Linked DNA regions of Homo sapiens: region 2 is linked to region 1. Evidence: fine-mapped expression QTL. A gene starts in region 1. The other region holds a variant in brackets. All regions are shown on one strand. Distances are from middle to middle.

Region 1 (5,376 bases):
GCTTCATATTTTCTCATGCCTTCAACAAGTCCTCCCTGGAGGAGGGGCAGTAAGCAGAAGGCAGTACAAGTGGCACATTCTCCTTCTAATGAGCACAGCACACTAACGTCTCTCGGAGGGGGCCCAGCTCTCCTCACGTTCCTCTGGGCCCAGGCTCCCTGCCAGCCTTTTCTCTTCCCCAGAGCATTCAATCGCTGTCAACAGAGCCAGACAAGAATAGAAGCCGCTCAGAGACTCTCTTTTGTTTTGCTGGGACACTTCAGCACATTCTCATGGATCCTTCAAAGGAAGGCAATTATCTGATCATTCTTGGGAGCAATTAAAATGTGGAAGGATACATCCTGCTTCAACCCGCCGAGTTTGTCTTTCCAAATCACATGGGCAATTGATTACACCATCAACAAACCCCATGTAACCCTCCAAGGAACGAGGTGCGTCCCTTGCAGTAGAAAACCGATAACCCAAGACATGAAGGTTCGAATGGATGATTGGCTTAGCTGGAATTGTGCTCCTCTGGAGGAGACTTTTTAAATGTATTCCTAGTTGCAAGTCCAGAAGCAAGGGAAGTGAGGCCCTCAGGGTTCTATCAGAGCCTGGGAAGGGGAGGAGAGCAGAGATGCTAAAGCAGTAGCAGAAGATCCACAGACCCCTGGAAGGACATGGAAGCTCGCTTTGAGCTGCTCCTTAGTTCATGGGGGTCTCTCCAGCATAAAGAGCTTCCTTCCTAAAATGGGAAGAGGGCTGTTTGCACAGAGAGAAGCGTAGCCTTAATACTGTACTTTGTCCATCCCTCCAGAAAGCCCAAGGGAGGGGGCAGATGGTTCATCTGCAAGTGATCCCAGGCCTAAAGCAAAGAGATGGATGGTCGGAGCCTCCGCGCGGTTTTTCCTGGCTACCTCCATACCACCATGTCACCTCTCTGTAAAGGCGATATAGGGAGCACCATCTGGGTGTTGTAGCTCATCTGGCTGTTGTAAGGAGTAAATGAGATGGGACGTGCCACACACATGATATGTGCCCGGCTCACAGGAGGCACCTTAGTAAGTGGTCACCATCAGATATACTAGTGAACCTGAGAGTGGCCCTTACCAACGTGGAAGGCTGGGGTGTTTGTAATCATCACTCAAGGCAAAGCAGAAAGAAATCTAGGCTATTTTTTAAGACTCATTGTGTTTGGTCACAGGCAAAAATAGAATCCATCCTCATGCAACCATCCTTTAAATAGTATTTCAACAGAGGGTTAAAGTGTTGGTTTGGGGTGTGAGAGTGATACCTTATTCATTCAGAAGTCCCTCAAAGAAGAGGATGGAGAAACAGACACGATTCCATGAAATGATCACTTTCCCCAGGCAATCACACCAAGGAAGGTCAAAGAACCTCCTCCCCGAAGGTTCACTGCTGGAGGTGGAGATCACAGCCAACTGACAATATAACTGCTGGCAGATATTTTTAGGTGGAAAGTCCCACCGTTTCCCGTACCTCACTGTGACCCTCATTACGGCATTAGGATGGGATTACCTTGCTCTCTTCTGAAATACTAGCTTATCCGTGGCACCAGCAACAAATACAAGCAGCTTGTCTGATGGAAAGGTCCTCTACTTAAGAACTAAACTTCCCCCAAATCACAAGCCCCTTTGCTGAAACAATGAAAAATTTAGGTAAGCTCTGGATTGAACTATTTCCCTCCCTTTGAAATAACTGGATGTTTAGTCATAACAAATAAGAATGATTCTGGTATCTTGTGGTCACGACATAGCATTTTTATGTTTTTTTTTTTTTATTTTTCACTTTACATCTCACTACATGGACATGCTACCTTCAATTCAACCCCAGGTTACATCAAAACCTCTTGACCTTTCATTTAAAGACAAATAAAAGGCAGCTGCTGGGCTGTGAAATTGTGAATAACAAACGGAACCATTATTTGAAAGGTTTCAAATTCTGATGAACAGAAAGATTATTTTGGAAAATCTATAGCGGAGAGTAGTATAATTATAACTTAGATTTGCGTGGTGCTCAATCCAAACTCATCTCCAAACTGAACGTGGTTTTCTAACAATAACATTCCTCCAAAAAAGGGGGCAGCCTACAAACCAACATAAGCGTAAGATGCACTTCCTGTCCAGCTAAAAATAAACCTGCAGACATTTGAAAGCAGCATAGAATCCTTTCTAACAATAAAAACAAACTCACCCATGTCGTTGGGCCAAGGCTTTGACATTTTAAAAATCATTATGGTGAAAAATAAACGCAACCTATAACGTGAGCTATTGTTAGAAATCCTTGAGAAAAATGCCTCAAATAGAGAACTCGAACGTCCACTCGCTAAAAATGAAACCGTTTTACTTGGGCATTGTCAAAGGTCGAATGGTTTTCTCCAAAAATGATGTTGAAGTCCTAACCCCCAGGACCTCAGAATGTCACCTTATTTGGAAATAAGGTCCTTGCAGATGTAATTAATTAGAACGAGGTCACATTGGAATGGGGTGGGCCCCGCATCCAATAAAACCACTGTCCTTATAAAAAAGAGGCACGCCACGTGAAGACCGAGACACACAAGAAGAACACGGGGTGTGGCTGAAGGCGGAGGTTGTGACGACGCATGTACAAGCCTGCAGGAGCATCCGCGAGCACCGCTGGCCCCACCGGAAACCGGGAAGAGGCAGGACAGCTTCTACCCCGAGCCTCAGAGACAGTCTGGCCTTGACATCACCTTGATCGTAGAATTCCAGCCTCCAGAATGGTGAGACACAAATTCCTGTTATTTTCAGCCAGGCAGTTTGTGGCACTTCGTTTCAGCAGCCTAGGAAGTGAATATATTCACTTCCATATACGTGAAATTGACATCAGTGAGGATTTGCTCTCTAGGCAGTAGATGTGAACCGGCCTTCAACGATTTTTTTTTTTCTGGCTGCATGTTGGGCGCTCCCAGCTTAGGGGGTGGGTGTGCAGGGAGTGGGGAGGGAGGCGCTTCTGCTTCTGTGGCTCTCCCATGGTCTCTTCCCACAACATCTTCTGCATCTCTGTGGATCCGGCTGCCCCCAGCGCAGCAGCCCGGGTGGGGTGGGAATGTCCAGCACTGCGTCGCTGCCAGCCCTCTGGGCGTTCCAAGTTCCTGGCAGGATCCGGATGCAGTGTGGTTGACCTTAACTACCCAGGAGAGGGTGAGCTCTCCTACAGAAGACTTGGACATCTTCTCTGCCTTCTCATTTCTGTGTCCACAAAAAATCAGCACAATGGACACTGGATCCTGCTCTCCCTTCCTTCTCTTTCCCACCAACGCACACTTTGGCAGTCCTGGCACCAGCATGGGATCCACCCCACGCACACCCACATGCACCCCACACTCACCTCCAGGGAAGAAGCACATCAGTGAGAGGAATGGCTCTGTCCTCAACTCAGTAGGAGCCAGCACCCACCCCTCCCCTCTGTTGCCACTTCAAAAGGTTTTCTTTGTTCGCTTGTTTCTACTTACCATTAATGTTCTTCAGGCTGGATAAGCTTTAAGGTGTGTCCCTTGACATATTAGATCTATTTTACTCTGCCATTTTATAATTAAACAGGGTCTGACTGAAGTTACCTTTGGCCCATGTATGTCTAATCCTACCAAGTCCTAGCCATGAAACAGGTGATATGTGTATAAATGAAAACAGTGGGTTAAGAGGATGCTTCCAGAAGTATTAAGGCACCCACGCACACACACAGACAAATACGCTCCACTGAAGATCATTTAGAACTGTGGGTACAGGGAAGCACTTAGAGAACTGTATTACAAGAAGATTCAGTGGAAAATCTACCACCAATCCTAATTCATTTCCCTACAGAACCTTAGTGTGCAGTTCGTAGCCCACCTTCAGCACCTGTATGGGATTGGGGCCACTGAGTATTCTGTGTACACATTCGTCATGGTCTTTTAAAATCACCCTCATTGTTGCTGGCTTCTGACTGCCTCTCAGCTGTGCATTAGTCAGGATGCTGCAGCGAACAGCTGACATTAAGGACCTTAGGATGAAGGGACATTTTACCAAGATAGGGGCAGAGTTTAGGAAAAGCAGTAATGTTTAGTCCACTAAACCAGGGGTCACCAGCCTCAGGGCTGCAGAGAGGGGGAAGAAGTCTTATCCATGGCCCTGGAGGGCAGCCCCATAGTGTTTTGTTTTGTTTTGTTTTGTTTTGTTTTGTTTTGTTTTGTTTGAGGTGGAGTTTCAGTCTTGTTGCCCAGGCTGGAGTGCAATGGCGTGATCTCGGCTCACAGCAACAACAAACGGCTTAGCTGGAATTGTGCTCCTCTGGAGGAGACTTTTTAAATGTATTCCTAGTTGCAAGTCCAGGAGCAAGGGAAGTGAGGCCCTCAGGGTTCTATCAGAGCCTGGGAAGGGGAGGAGAGCAGAGATGCTAAAAGAGTAGCAGAAGATCCGCAGACCCCTGGAAGGACATGGAAGCTCGCTTTGAGCTGCTCCTTGGTTCATGGGGGTCTCTCCAGCATAGACAACTCCCTTCCTAAAATGGGAAGAGGGCTGTTTGCACAGAGAGAAGCAGTAGCCTTAATACTGTACTTTGTCCATCCCTCCAGAAAGCCCAAGGGAGGGGGCAGATGGGAGGAGGCTCCACCTCCCGGGTTCAAGCGATTCTCCTGCTTCAGCCTCCCGAGTAGCTGGGATTACAGGCATGTGTCACCATACACGGCTAATTGTGTATTTTTAGTAGAGATGGGGTTTCTCCAGGTTGGTCAGGCTGGTCTCGAACTCCCGACCTCAGGTGATCCACCCACCTCGGCCTCCCAAAGTGCTGGGATTGCAGGCGTGAGCCACCATGCCCGGTGGGCAGCCCTATAGTTTGAGAAGGTGGTGACCAGAGCTGCAGCTTCCAGCAGAGAAACCCAACACCCCACAGCACCCTAACAGGAGACCCTGAGTAAACACCTCCTCTGTCCTCCTCCTGCTGCTGTTGCCCCCCATCCAGCCCCTGTTGGCCAGACGCCACCGGACCCAGGCACAACGGTGTCTGCTTCTGAGGTGCGGGCCGCCTCCCGGAGGGAACAGCAGGCGGAGAAGCTGATGCTGGGCTGCAGAGGATGCCTTTCTGAAAGCTCCAGTTATCAGTGGACAGAGACAGCAGCTAACCAATGCCTGTCAGGGAATCCCAGTCGGCATTTTCCTTTTCCTTTTGGAATTGAGCTTCTCAGGAAGAGTCTACAGTTCCCCACACTGAGTCTTATTCAGCAAACCACAGGACCCCAGGCAATCTCAAACGAATGCCTCTTTTTTTTTTTGAAATTCAACATTTTAATTGTGATATAACTTATGTAAAAACTTTCCAAAAAGTATCTAAGATATTCCACTGTACAACACATCAAAACTTTATCTGAGAAGCTGG
Region 2 (5,376 bases), 72 kb before region 1:
TGCAGTGCGGTCTCCCCAACCTTCTGCGTGGGCTACTCTGGACTCTCCGTTCTGCTCAAAGTGTTCTTTGTTCTCCATGAGGCTCAAGGGGACTCTCCGCAGATTTCTTCAGATCCTGTCAGACACCCACTGCAAACCTTGCCACCTCCTCACACACCCCAACCTCTACCATCTGTCCGCAACTCCATGAGGCCACCATGCTGTACATGGGCTCCACCCGCTCATGCCACAGTCCAGAGAGAGCATCTCAGCAATCCCAGAGCACACCCCACGCACCCGCCAGGAATCCCACCCTTGGCTGTGGTCCTCAGTGTCTGAAAACAGGTGCTTCATGCATTCTGTTCAGTTTCTACTTGTTGATGTGGAGAGGGATACTTCAGCACCAGTACTCTGTTGTGTCTCATAAATGGGTCCTAATTAGTATTTTCTTACTTTCTGGAAACAAAAGTTTGGTCACTTACTGTGTTTTCCTTTTTCTTCTTTTTTTTCAGGCTTTCAGGAAGCTCCTCAGAGGTGAATCAGATAATGAAGCAGAACAAGATCTGCCCTTGTGAATTGCTTATTTGATTGCCATCATCTTAATTTTAATTTTATTATAAAGTGTGTAGGCAACACAGTTGAAGAAAACTGTGAAGCCACAGGAGCCTAAGCAATAGATTCGATTCCTTCCATTTGACTCCATTGTCATCCTTCCACTTCATATCCCTATCCCATCCTACCTGGTCTCATAGTGACTGTCGAATCCCCCTTAGCCTGCATTCTGAACAAATGCACCTAGTTGGATTCCTCTCTCATCCTTGCAAAAACAAAACAAATAAAGCAGAAACACCCTTTGCTCATGTTTCTACCAAAATAAGCATTGCCTGTGAGCTCTATGTGCCTTACTTGTGTTGTGCCCTCTGCAGCGCCCAGCAAGATGCCTGATCCACAGTCAGCAGACAACAAACAGCTTCAAGGCTCTGTTGGGTCAGGGCAGTCTTTAGATGAAAACCCTGCTCAGTGAGGAAACCACAGTCTCACCACAACGGGGCATTCCAGGAGCTTGTCTGTGTCAGCATAGATGTTCGCCTCTGCACAAGGTGTTGTGAATTACTGTACTTGCCCTTCTTCTCTATCTAGGTCATTTTTCTTTTCCAATGGTGCCTTTAATTTAGATTTGGGAGGGGTTAAGATACTGGCAGCTCTTTGTTCTTTGAGCTTATAAAACAATGACAGAGCTAGAGTGTTCTTCTGAGCAAGGCGATCTGCTGGTTGATAATGATGATATGAGAGAGAAATAGCAGATGTGTTTTAGTGTCAACACTGAAGGACATTCCGAAGGCCTCATCCCTAGCTCAGACATAGGGCTCCACGCAGCTGCTGATCTTGTCCATTACTGTATCAGTCAGGTTTCTCCAGAAAAACAGAACCAACAGGAGATGAGAGAGAGGACAATTTTAAGAAATTTGCCATGCGATTGTGCGGCGGCCGAATCCAAAATCAGTGGTGCAGGTCAGCAGCTGGAAACTGAGGCAGGAGCCAGTGCTGCCATGTTGAGGTGGAACGTCTTCCTCTATGGAAACCTCTGTCTTTAACAGTAAGGCCTATGGCTGGCTGGGTGAGGCCCACCCACATTACAGAGTGTAATCTCCTTTACTTCAAGTTAACTGATTGCAGAGACTGAGCACATCTGTAGAATACTTTCACAGCAACACCTAGATCCGTGCTTGATTAAATACACGTAAAGAATTGCTTATGGAGGCATCCATATAAACAAGTTTTAAAGGGATTGGTTTTAAGTTTCATGGCAAAAAATACAGAAGGTAATTAACGTACAGAAAATATTTACCCTTGGTCAAGTGCAGTGGCTCATGCCTGTAATCCCAGCACATTGGGAGGCTGAGGCAGAAGGACTGCTTGAGGCTAGGAGTTCAAGACCAGTCTGGGCAACGTAGGGAAACCTTGTCTCTAAAAAAAAAAAGAAAAAATTTAAGTAGCTGGGCATGGTGGTGTACGCCTGTAGTCCCAGCTACTGGGGAGGGTGAGCTGGAAGGATCACTTGAGCACAGGAGGTCAAGGCTGCATTGAGTCATGATGGCACCACTGCACTCCAGCCTGGGCAACAGAGCGAGACCCTGTTTCAAAGAAGGAAGGAAGGAAGGAAAGGAAGGAAAGGAAGGAGAAAGGAAGGAAGGAAAGAATATTTACCCTTGGCAGTCATCAAAGAAATACAAATTCAAACAAGATTCCACTTTTCACTTTTCAAATGGATGAGATGTTGTTCTTCGTCGGATATTTTTAGACCCCTTATTGTCCCTAAAGTCATGTTCATGGACTGTCATCCCTCACTTTTTCCGTAACAACATTTCATCCCAAATTTCTTAGGTGTCTTGATTTTCTGTCAAATTGAGGCAGGAGAGGAAAGAGACTGGGTCCTGCAGACATGTGACAAAGCAACACAGGTCCTGATGGCCCTCACACATCCGGGCACGTTCCCTCCCCCACTTGCACCCCTTAACAAGTAGACTGAGTCACGGAGCAGGAAGGGGTGGAGGTGCTCCTAAATCTGCTGACCAGGCTGAATTCCTGACCATACAAGGAAGGACCTATCTATCTCTTTGAGTGATGCCTTCTGAGGTCACTGAAACAGGACTCTGGCATTCCCTATAAGGACCTGACCAGGTCCAGCTGCCTGAAGACCAGAGGGACTGCAGCCTGACCCTCACGCCTTTCTCCTCATTTGAATGTCATCGTAATATTAAAATCACTGCCCAGGGTGGGGCTCCTCTGCCATTTTCTGGTCACCCGATGCAAGTTAAAGCATGAAGTCCCACTGCGCAAGCAAAGAAAAGACAAAGGCCTCACCTGAACATGCATGGACGTCACTCTGTTCCCACCTCACCTTCCTGCCGGTGACACGCTGGGGGGCTGGTGTCCAGATCCTTTTCCCGCAGCTGCTCCGTGTGCCCAGCCCCAGCCTGTGAGCCCAGCCTGGGAAGAATCCCCAGCTGGCCTGGTGTCACCATCCACTCACACAAGAGCCAAAGAACTCAAGGTCCGGATGCAGTCACAAAATAAGCTCTTTTCTTAGCTTCTAT[A/G]AAAAGCCAGGGAGGGAGGGGTTTTCAGTCACTGGGAGGAACAAGAAACCAAATAACCAAAAAGAGGCAGCCGAGCCCTGGAGCTGCCACACATCCAGCAAACATCATCAGACCCTTCGGGATGCCAGGACAGAGGTCAGAACCCAGAACCCCAGGATGCCAAGATCGAGGTTCCTTCCCTCACCGAATTATTTTTAAAGTTGATACAGTGTAACTGAAAACATTAAATTATATGTGACCTGCAGACACCAAAGCCATCCTGAAATGTAGGAATCTCCCAAGCCCTGGGCTGCCCTCACCTGCCGCCTGGCTGTACTGCCCTCCTGGGCTGTGATCATATATGCATGCGAGGATCTCAACAAAGTAATCCTGTCCTCAGCACACGCAAAGCCTTAGTTCACTGCACCCCTCTGGCGTACGGCAGGGCTATGATACCCCTTAAAATTGTCCTTGATGAGATAAAGAATTGAAGGAAAAAATCAGCAAAAACCTTTTTTCTTTCTCTTGCAAATAAAAAGTATGACCAACATAGCAAGAGAAAAGAGTGGGAGAACAGAATCAAAGTAGCTTTAAAAATACATCATCTCCCAGAAGTCAGGAAGAACATGATTAGCATATATGACTATGCAAACATCAAACAAATTAAACTAATGCATGCTTTTAAAATACCATAAACAAATTAAAAATCCACTTAAAAATATTTACAACATAGAAAACATATCAAGACCCAATTTCCTTACTATGCAAATACTACTCACAAATTGACAGAAGAAAAAAACTTAAATCACCTTACATAAAAATAAGTAAAGTTTAAAAACACAGACAAACATTAAAATATGTACACATTTAACATATAATTATAAAGGAACTTTAAATAAAAAGAAGACATAGGTTTTTACCTGCTAGACAAAAAACGAGATAAAGAGCTTGGTAATTTTCAGTGAGGCCAGGAATAAACAAACATCCTTTCACTTGAGTGGAATTGGCTACAGCCTCCGTGCAGGGCATTTTTACAGTAGCAATCAGTGATTCAAAATGCAAGCCCCCCTTATACTAGTGATTCCACTTCCAGAAATGTACTTAATACTTGATCAAGGCTGCAGGTATATGTTGTACAATGTTCCCTGCAGCAATTTCCTGAAGCTGGAAAAACAGTTGGAAGGAAGCTAAGTGTTCACAAATAGATGTCTGTTAAAATTATTATAGAATGTCCTCCCAAACAGCACACGGTCTTTTAAAAGAATGAGGTAGACATATATTTGCTGACATGGAAAATGGTCCAAGTAATATTCCGTGAAGGCAGGGAGCAAATTGCAGAAGTAGAATAGCATTTGAGTAAACATTTCTGGAAGGATGCTCACCAAAAAATGTCCAGAGTGGTGAGCTTGTAGGGACAAGGCAGGGATTCAGAAAGAAATGTTGCTTTTCACTTTGTGCCATTCAGTAACATTTGAAACTTTGTCCATAAGCATACATACATTACTTTTGTAATAAAAAACTAACTTAAAATTTTAAAAAATTAAAACAATAAAACAGATATTGAAAGTATATTAACATACTGATATATTTTAACAGCTCTGAATTTTGAGAAATGTCTTGGCTTGAAAGGTCATTAAGGGTGAAAAGAGACTACTGAATATGATATTTTTAGTAGAATCCCTTGTTAAATGGGATACCCACTACTATTAGTTAGGATATAAAGATAAATATTAATATAATACTTACAGGCACATGCCTGTAATCCCAGAACTTTGGGAGGCTGAGGCAGGTGGATTGCTTGAGGCCAGGAGTTCAAGACCAGCCTGGCCAACATGGTGAAACCTCGTCTCTATCAAAAATACAAAAAAAAAAAATAGCCAGGCATAGTGGCACGTGCCTGTAATCCCAGCTACTCGGGGGGCTGAGGCATGAGAATCACTTGAACCCGGGAGGTGGAGGTTGCAGTGAGCAGAGATTGAGCCGCTACACTCCAGCTTAGGTGACAGAGTAAGACTCCGTCTCAAATGGAAGCCCCCTTTAATAGTCTGCATTATAATATTGACTAATATTTGTAACACTTTGATTCACAACTACACTATTGAAGGCACTACTGAAGGCACTTCACTACTGAAGGAAGATATCTGCCATAGTTACTGGCAATTTATTTTACCCCCTTACCTTAAATTTTACATTATTGTTCCCTCTTAAAAATGATACAGTCATCACAGTTCTTTCATTTTGCCAGATGTGAACCTTTTATCCAAAGGGAGTTTTGAAAATGATGTAGATTTTTCTTCTCTGCAAAGCATATTCAGACTAT

Which allele goes with the higher level. Positions count from the first base shown, and alleles are read on the strand shown. Sizes are in standard deviations (SD) of each study's normalised expression.
For the expression in aorta of the gene that starts at base 2,473 in region 1, allele G in region 2 goes with a lower level than allele A (large effect, 1.1 SD a copy in GTEx).

The links.
Region 2: its variant is fine-mapped to the expression of LINC03082 in aorta (GTEx, PIP above 0.99). The same link has a PIP of 0.9 or more in coronary artery, lung, prostate, subcutaneous fat, tibial artery and tibial nerve.

Annotation. Positions count from the first base shown.
Region 1 is chr13:110,126,664-110,132,039 of GRCh38, forward strand. LINC03082 (long intergenic non-protein coding RNA 3082) reads right to left here and starts at 2,473. Exons shown (of 3, transcript NR_187462.1): 1 at 2,194-2,473. LOC101927712 (a long non-coding RNA gene) reads right to left here. Exons shown (of 3, transcript XR_931726.3): 3 at 5,299-5,376. RefSeq lists enhancers at 1-243, 244-1,051.
Region 2 is chr13:110,054,282-110,059,657 of GRCh38, forward strand. It overlaps LINC03082 (long intergenic non-protein coding RNA 3082), which reads right to left. Exons shown (of 3, transcript NR_187462.1): 2 at 1,829-1,947. LINC00396 (long intergenic non-protein coding RNA 396) reads left to right here. Exons shown (of 4, transcript NR_126387.1): 4 at 492-671. Among named protein-coding and RNA genes, the nearest start is that of LINC00396, 3.7 kb to the left of the region's middle. The variant A/G (reference allele first, on the strand shown) is at 3,078.